Homo sapiens: one gene and its partner. The protein of the gene in region 2 purifies or fractionates together with the protein of the main gene of each other region. This does not show direct contact. Each region holds a gene or a part of one and is shown on either strand. Other genes may lie near its edges.

Region 1 (3,537 bases), on a different chromosome or scaffold from region 2:
GACAGATTGTTAACATTTTACCATATTTGCTTAACCATGCTCTATAGTACACATTTTTTGCTGACCACTTGGGAATAAGCTACAGATACCATGACCATTTTTGCACCCTGAATACTTCGCACCCTGATACAGGAGTGTGTATGTCTTAAGAACAAGAATGTTTTCTTGGAAAATTATATTTTTGTGTGTATAATTAATCATATTCAAGAAATTTAACATTGATTCAATCTAATGTCTAATGTGAAATTCATGTTTTAATTTTAACAATTGTAATGTCTTTCATAGCAATTTCCCCCTCCCCCCAAGGCAGAGGCAGGGATGGTACACGAGTTCTCTGTCCTCTGGGTGCTACATTAAGTCATGTGATGTCTGTTGTTGGTAACATTAACTTGGTTCCCTTGGTGTCCACCAAATTTCTCCATGAAGCTGCCATTTTATTTTTGGAAGTAGCTTCTTCATAGTTGTGGGGAAAGAGGATTTAGGTGAAATTATTAGGAAAAGGCTTATCAATCCTTGGACATTTTACTCAGATATTACCTACTGGCATGTGTAGTCTCCTTTAAAAAAAAAAAAATGTAGGCTGGGCACGGTGGCTCACACCTGTAATCCCAGCACTTTGGGAGGCCAAGGCGGGTGGATCAGTTGAGGTCAGGAGTTCAAGATCAGCCTGGCTAACATGGTGAAACCCCATCTCTACTAAAAATACAAAAATTAGCCAGGCATGGTGGCGGGCGCCTTTAATCCCAGCTACTTGGGAGGCTGAGGCATGAGAATTGCTTGAACCTGGGAGGCAGAAGTTGCAGTGAACTGAGATCCTGCCACTGCACTCTAGTCTGGGCAGCAGAACAAAACTGCCCCCCCCCCCCCCCCCCCCCCCAAAAAAGTATTTGTTCCATCTTAGCAATGTGTTACCTTTCTCTCTCAATGTGATTGACAGACCAGGTCTTTTTTTATAGTTAGGTGTATACTTCCTCTATAGTTTTAATTTTTCCATTTATCTCATACTGCTTCTCTTGAACTACATACTCTGTTGTATGGGCAGCCTTCAGCTCCATTGCTGTAAACAGTGGTGCAGAAATTTTAGAATTTTAATGAGCTTTTGTGAGAGTACTAGGGCAGCTATCAATGCTCATCTTAAGATGGAACTGGCCATTTTGAGAAACATATCTTTGCCTGTATCTATGTATGTTTATAAGCTAAAGTCTTAGATACAGATTGACTTGGTTAAATGTTACTTGCACTCATAATTTTGTTGGATACTGTTATTGCTGAACTTTTCTGGTATGGCAGCCTAATTTTCTGTCTTTTTCCCCTCCTTTGGCTTCTGAAATCCCTCTGATTATGTTGTCTATGTTGAGGCCTTCTCTTCAGCCTTTGGCCCTCTGTTCTGTCTTCCTCTCCCTCTGCAAGTTTTTTTTTTTTTTTTTTTTTTTTTTTTTTTTTTTTTTTTGAGGCGGAGTTTCGCTCTGTCGCCCAGGCTGGAGTGCAGTGGCGCGATCTCGACTCACTGCAAGCTCCGCCTCCCGGGTTCACGCCATTCTCCTGCCTCAGCCTCCCGTGTAGCTGGGACTACAGGTGCGCGCCACCATGCCCGGCTAATTTTTGTATTTATGGTAGAGACGGGGTTTCACCGTGTTAGCCAGGATGGTCTCGATCTCCTGACCTCGTGATCCGCCCGTCTCGGCCTCCCAAAGTGCTGGGATTACAGGCGTGAGCCACCGCGCCCGGCCCTCTGCAAGTTCTTAACTCTGCGTTTCTCCCTTCCCTTTAGAAGCCATCTCCTTTTCAGTCTCTAGTCCCACCCTATGTTCTAGCTCCCCAGCTACAGCTGCCTGCCCACCTTTTCCACTCAGTCTTCTACCATTCCAGATTTCTCTCTTGTCAATCCCCTTTATCACTGTATCTTCCTTGCTGTGGGGTAGGGTTCCACCTTTAAGTGGGGGCACTTAGGTCTTCTCTCTCCCTGGCATGAGTTTTCTGCACTCACTGGTCTGGTTGTTTACATGTGTTGACAGTAACTGCCGCCTTCTGGCCTTTTCTCCGTGCTGCTGCCTCTCTTCTGGAGCACAATTTTTTTTTTTTTTTTTTTAAGACAGAGTCTCACTCTGTCACCCAGGCTGGAGGCTGGAGTGCAGTGGCACAATCTTGGCTCACTGCAACCTCCACTTCCAGGGTTCAAGCGATTCTCATGCCTCAGCCTCTCAGGTAGCTGGGACTACAGGCGTGTGCCACCATGCAAGGCTAATTTTTGTATTTTTAGTAGAGAAGATGTTTCACTATGTTGGCCAGGCTGGTCTCAAACTCCTGACCTCAGGTGATCTACCGCTTTGGCCTCCCAAAGTGCTGGGATTACAAGTGTGAGCCACTGTGCCCGGCCTGGAGCACTCTTTCATGTCCTCTTTGCCTTTCCAAATACTTCCCAATCTTCAAAAACCAAATCAACCTTTTGTGTGAGGGCTTTTCAGCCTGATCCCCCTCTTCTGAGCATTTCCTTTGTTAAGATGCATGTAAGGCTGTGTTTTACTTCCCTGGGACATTGCTCATCGGCTTATTTTCTTAGTTTTCCTCATGCTTTTGGATTGTCTTGTGTGCTGGATTGGAAGGCCAGTCTAGGCCCCCCACCAGGCTGACTCACTTCTCTGCTTACAGTAGGGAATGAGAAAGGGTGGTATCATGATTTGAACTTTACCCAGTCCCACGTGTCATTTGACTTGAGCTGGAAATTTGCAGTGTTTTTTTGGGCTGCTGATGTGCACAGGAAGGAGTTACTGGCCCTGGACAGTATGTCAGGAAAGCTGTCCTGGAAGAAAGGAGGCCAGACACAGGCCACAGAGGGCTGGTGCAAGCTTGGAAATTGGGTGCCTAAGACCTTGCTTTTGTGTTGAAAGGTTTGTCCGATATGTGCCTCGATGCCCTGGGGAGACCCCAACTACCGCAGCGCCAACTTCAGAGAGCACATCCAGCGCCGGCACCGGTTTTCTTATGACACTTTTGTGGTAAGTCTGGAGCCTGGGCTCTGATCCCTCCCCTGGGGGAGTGGCACGGCTACTTCACTCTTCTCAAAAGGGGAAATGGGGATCCCCAGTGTTGAACTTTGTCGCTGTTGTGATGGGCTTCCAGTCTGTATACTGGATACAGTGATAAAGGGGATTGACAAGAGAGAAAAGAAGACTGAGTGGAAGAGGCGGGCAGGCAGCTGTAGCTGGGGAGCTAGATGGGCTTCCAGTCTGTATACTGTAGCTACTATACAGTTTCTATTCATGGGCCAGGCAGGTGGCCAGAGTGACATTTATTTACTTACATGAGATGGAGTCTTGCTCTGTCGCCCAGGCTGGAATGCAGTGGCGTGATCTCAGCTCACTGCAGCCTCCACCTCCCGGGTTCAAGTGATTCTCCTGCCTCAGCCTCCTGAGTAGCTGGGACTACAGGCGCATGCCACCATGCCCCATTACTTTTTGTACTTTCAGTAGAGACAGGCTTTCACTATGTTGGCCAGGCTGGTCTCGAACTCCTGACCTCGTGATCTGCCCACCTTGG
Region 2 (5,540 bases):
TTTTGTTTTGTTAAATTTTTAAAACTTTTTTATTTTTTTATTTTTTATTTTTTATATTTTTTAAAACTTTTTTAGAGACAGAATTTCCTCTGTCGCCCAGGGTGGAGTGCAGTGGTATGATCATCATAGCTCACTGTAACCTCGCACTCCTGGGTTCAAGTGATCCTCCTGCTTTAGCCTCCCAAGTAGCTGGGACTTACAGGTGGATGCTGCCATCCCCAGCTAATGTTTTCTTTTTTTTTCTTTGGTGTAGAGACAAGGTCTCACTATGTTGCTGGGGCTGGTCTTGAACTCCTGTCCTCAAGCAGTCCTCCTGCCTCAGCCTCCCAAGTAGCTGGGATTACAGGCATGATGTTTTGTTTTTAAGTGTTATTAAATGCAAAGGATAAAAAAAAAATAGGTGTTAAAGAGGCCACAATTCTCAGGGAATCAGATGCCTAAGAGTAGAAGGGGTGGGGTAGGAAGTTGACTTAATTAATGAATTTTCTACAAATTCAGCTGTTTTTAAAAGGTTTCTCCTGCTTTTTAATGGGGCTGATCTTAGAATACTTGAACTGAGACTGCATAAGCAAACAAAGCTTAGGGGTTTGGTGGTTCAGTGCTTTCAGCTGAAAGAACATTTATCCCATGCAGTCACCTCATGGTCATGGGAATGCCTGGCACAGTTTCTTTAATCCCCCCTGAAAAGGATAAAATGAATTAATTTGTATTTCATCGCTGAAACTGATTTAGTAAACATCTTTCAAAATGGTAAGGGGAAGGAGGGAAAGTAATAAAAGGTGAGTTTGGATTCTGAAATTTCATTCTTCAGAGATCCTTGTGTAGAAGCTCAATTCCCTTTGACTCCCTCTCTAGAGAAGGCTGGTGTCCGTCTGTGAAACATGCAGTATATCTTTGGAATACCCATGCAGTGAATACAAACTCATTCTCAGAAAATAAAGGCACATTTGTAACTGCGCTTGAAACATATTTTTTTAACCCATGGCTATTAGAGTGTTGAAGCCCATCAGACAGATGTGTATATGCATTTTTATGTTTTAGGCAAGTTAGGATGTTGGCTTGTTAAAAGTAAGCATCTATGGGTTGGAATGGATGTTAACCATATACATAGTCCAGTTTAATATCTTAGAATGGATAGGATTTATTTATCTCGGCTCATCTTCAAGCATATGTTAGTAATAATGGACCTCCATCCCCTGCAAAAAAGGAAAAGCTATATTTGAAGTTTGCATTTTATGGAACGGGTCCATAGTAGTGATATCAGAAAGAAAAGGGGCAGAATCTCTTCTGTTGTCACGGCTAGGTTTGCTGTACAGGCTGACAGTCTAAAACCTCTAGAGGAGAGTGTTTGCAGAGAATCTTACCTTTTTCTTTCAAACCAGAAGCCTGTGTTGGTAACTTCAAGCCCTGATAATAATAGAAAACCTGGTGGGCTGGGGACTTACCCTTTTCTTTGCAAAGCTGGATAGAGGGAGGAGCTATTAAATAAAAATAAGGGGCTTATATTCTTTGCTTCCCCGCCATTCCTCCAGATTAGTGATGGCTTTTTAAGGAGTTATAGATATTTGAGAATCTGATTAAAGCAGTCAGACCTCTCTTCAGGAAAGTGTACCAGTGAAAAATGTACCATTGTACCAGAAAAATGTATCAGTACTGAGGATCCAAAGGAATCTGTGTGGGCTCTGAGAAAATGCTACAGAGGACAAGGACTGTTGTGCCTTTTGTTGTGAAGGTTGGAGAAACCAGCAGCACTTTAAATCTCCCCCTGTACTTAAAAGCACCTCGGAGATTCAGTAAGCCCTGGATCCACCCATCCATCCAGGACTCTGTCTCACAAAGAGACTTTGAGGCACATTGAATTGAAGGCACAGTCACTTGTAGAAGGTGGGGGTTAGAGACGGCAGTCATGCTTCCATTGTTTTAGCTTCTTGAAAGTCATCTCCTAAAAGACTGTGTGTTGATGATAATGCGGTGGTGGTGGTGGTGGTGGTGGTGGTGGTGGTGGTGGTGGTGGTGGTGGTGGTTGTGGTGGTGGTGGTGGTGGTGATGGTGGTGTCAGGCAAAACTAGGTTGGAATCCTAGTATCCTGTCGATCACTTTCTAGCCTTGTTTTAAAAAATATATATATAAATTGTGAAACATATGGAACTGAAAAGAGTATGAAATTAGAAACTATCTAGATGGGCCTGGCCTAGATTCAAATTCTGTCTTCGCTCTTTGCTAGCTATACTCGGGCAAATTATTTAATCTCTCTAAACCTCAGTTTCTTCATTTGAAAAGTGGGAATAACCAAGTCATCTTACAGGGTTATTGTGACAATTAGTGATATTGTATGTAAAATGGCTGGCACATAGTATTAATTGGTTATGATTATGATGAGAGAGATGGTCAGCTATGCTCTTTGGAGATGAGACACACAAAGTTGTAGTCTCTGTGTCACAAAGCTCTTATGAAAATTTCAGTTTCCTAATACATTTTGGCACACATTATTACTTCCTTGTGACCAGTATGTGCCAATGAGTGTTATAGCACCTGGCCCTGAACTAGGTCTCAGGGTCAGGATTTCCTTGCTCTCTTCCACTTCTCTTTTTCTCCATTTCGAAATGGCCAAGGAATATGATTTAAATTTAAGCATTTAACTAGGCAGGAATAAGTAACTTACCAAAGCTGCTGCTTATCTAAAATCATTGTTCAAAGTAACAGACATGAATTTAAAGGCTCACGGATATGCATTCTGGTATCTAGAGTTTATAGTAATTAGCTCCATCTTAAGCACACTCAAAGCTATAAAAGTTGAATAGTATTGGTGGTTTTGTTTCTATGTGTGATCTTAGAAAACGAAGCAAATGTCAAATATTAGCATTCAGGTCCTGCTCCATGATTTTTGTTTGTTTTTATACAGAAATTAAAGTAGCTTTTTTTCTCCCTATAAGCTCCCTCCTTGCTGCATGCCTTACTTTGTCTCCCACCCACACATCCTTTAGTAATGAAATCTTTTCTGCTTAGTATCAGCACATTTGGAAGAAAACATATAACAAAGTTTCTTTAGCTATAGGTAATAAAGAGGAGTCTAGGATTCAAACGTAAAGGTATTTGTGAATTGGCTCTTGCTTGTTTGCCTTGTAGCTATACATTCCAGAGTTTTCTTCACAGGAAGGAGGCCCACAGAAGGCTAATAATAGGTTATTCATGTACAGGCGATGTTTGCTCCAAGCCTTTTTTTTTAATTAAATAGATAGCATTTTTTACTTTTAAAATAAGCACTTAAGCTATACAGATTATAATATTAAGTAGACACTGATATAGATCACTATAATGTGAGGTGTACTTATTTCTTAATGTTTTACATTGATGTTTCTTCCTCTCCATTTTAGGACACTTGGTGGGGTTCCCACACAAGCTCCTCCACCTCTTGAAGCAACTTCATCATCACAAATTATCTGCCCAGATGGGGTCACTTCAGCAAACTTTTACCCTGAAACTTGGGTTTATATGCATCCATCTCAGGACTTCATCCAAGTCCCTGTTTCTGCAGAGGATAAAAGTTATCGGATCATTTACAATCTTTTTCATAAGACTGTGCCTGAGTTTAAATACAGAATTTTGCAGATATTGAGAGTCCAAAACCAGTTTCTTTGGGAGAAATATAAAAGGTGAGTCAGATGTATGAAAAGTTCAAGACGGCCGGGCGCAGTGGCTCAAGCCTGTAATCCCAGCACTTTGGGAGGCCGAGGCGGGCAGATTACGAGGTCAGGAGATCGAGACCATCCTAGCTAACACGGTGAAACCCCGTCTCTACTAAAAATAGAAAAAATTAGCTGGGCGTGGTGGCGGGCACCTGTAGTCCCAGCTACTCGGGAGGCTGAGGCAGGAGAATGGTGTGAACCTGGGAGGCGGAGCTTGCAGTGAGCCGAGATTGCGCCACTGCACTCCAGCCTGGGCGACAGAGCCAGACTCCGTCTCAAAAAAAAAAAAAAAAAAGTTCAAGAATCAAGAGAGCTTTATTGTAGCCAGTGTCAAATGAGGAACATAATAGTAAACATTTGCACAGAATTTATGTTCATATTTTCTGTGTATTGACTGACATATAATCCTCATAACAGACATAAGTAGGATTATTACAATTTATATCCTACAGAGAAGAAGAAACTGAGTCACAGAAAGCTTACTTTGCTGCAGGTCATGCGGCTATTATGATATGGTGCTGGAATTTGAACCCAGGCCGTCTGGCACCAGAGGCCTTGCTCTTAATCCCTTTACTGTGGTGCCTCTCAAGTCAACAAACTAATGAAGGACAAATGGAGGGAATACATTTAGATTTCAGGAATCTCAGAATCTAAGAGACCCTCAGATTGGAGGAATTAGGCAAGGAGGGCATCCTGAGGAAAAACATAGGAGAACTCTTAATAGATTTAAGATGAAAGAGAAAGCAAGTGAATGATTGGTGGAGAAAGAAGGAAAAGGCCTTTTCTACAGTGGAAAGATAAGTTTCAACTTTTAATAGGATCTTTGATGGCATTTTGCCCTTGATAACTCCTCATTAAAACCATAAAGAGAAGTTTATGACTACATCATGCCTGTTAAATTGACCTGTATTTCATCCTTCTGAATTCTCTGTCTGTTCTTTCCATTAGGAAAAAGGAATATATGAACAGGAAAATGTTTGGCCGTGACAGGATAATAAATGAGAGACATTTATTTCATGGAACATCCCAGGATGTGGTAGATGGAATCTGCAAACACAACTTTGACCCTCGAGTCTGTGGAAAGCATGCTACAATGTTTGGACAAGGCAGTTATTTTGCAAAGAAGGCAAGCTACTCTCATAACTTTTCTAAGAAGTCCTCCAAAGGAGTCCACTTCATGTTTCTGGCCAAAGTGCTGACGGGCAGATACACAATGGGCAGTCATGGCATGAGAAGGCCCCCGCCAGTCAATCCTGGCAGTGTCACCAGTGACCTTTATGACTCTTGTGTGGATAATTTCTTTGAGCCTCAGATTTTTGTCATTTTTAATGATGACCAGAGTTACCCTTATTTTGTTATCCAATATGAAGAAGTCAGTAACACTGTTTCCATTTGAAAAATCTTGGTACTGCTAAATTATTTGATATGAACTCAATCCAGCATTTGTAGCAGGTTTTGAATGGGTGGGACTGGGTGGGGAACAGCATTGGACATTAATAGGGCACTTTTCAGACCCATTTTTTAAAGTGCTAGAAAATGCTTTTTTTAAAAAAAAAATACAAGTTTTAAAATGACCACTTACTCTTTAATTATTTACTAATTGCTAGTGTACTCAGTGTGGAAAAGACTACAGATTACACACTCTTTTCATTCACACTTGTACATATAGACAGCAATGTTATTAGGAGCATTAAATTAAAAAACTGAACAGCCTAATTTAAATGTGGCTTGGGCCTGGTAGAAGTTTGACCAAATGGAATGGAGGCTGTGAGCAATGTGAGGATTCTATTTATTTATTTACGTTTGATAAAACTTACTGGAACTAGTACTACCATGCGTATTCCCTGTCCAAAG

Evidence for each region.
Region 1: the proteins of TIPARP (region 2) and RNF114 purify together in Homo sapiens (affinity purification with mass spectrometry; 2 studies listed by BioGRID and IntAct, with this or other methods). This does not show direct contact.

What each region holds. Positions count from the first base shown.
Region 1 is NC_000020.11:49,946,360-49,949,896, forward strand, and holds part of RNF114 (E3 ubiquitin-protein ligase RNF114), read left to right. Parts: intron 1-2,888; coding exon 2,889-2,996; intron 2,997-3,537. UniProt on the Homo sapiens protein: E3 ubiquitin-protein ligase that promotes the ubiquitination of various substrates. In turn, participates in the regulation of many biological processes including cell cycle, apoptosis, osteoclastogenesis as well as innate or adaptive immunity.
Region 2 is NC_000003.12:156,700,050-156,705,589, forward strand, and holds part of TIPARP (protein mono-ADP-ribosyltransferase TIPARP), read left to right. Parts: intron 1-3,374; coding exon 3,375-3,653; intron 3,654-4,634; coding exon 4,635-5,082; 3' UTR 5,083-5,540. UniProt on the Homo sapiens protein: ADP-ribosyltransferase that mediates mono-ADP-ribosylation of glutamate, aspartate and cysteine residues on target proteins.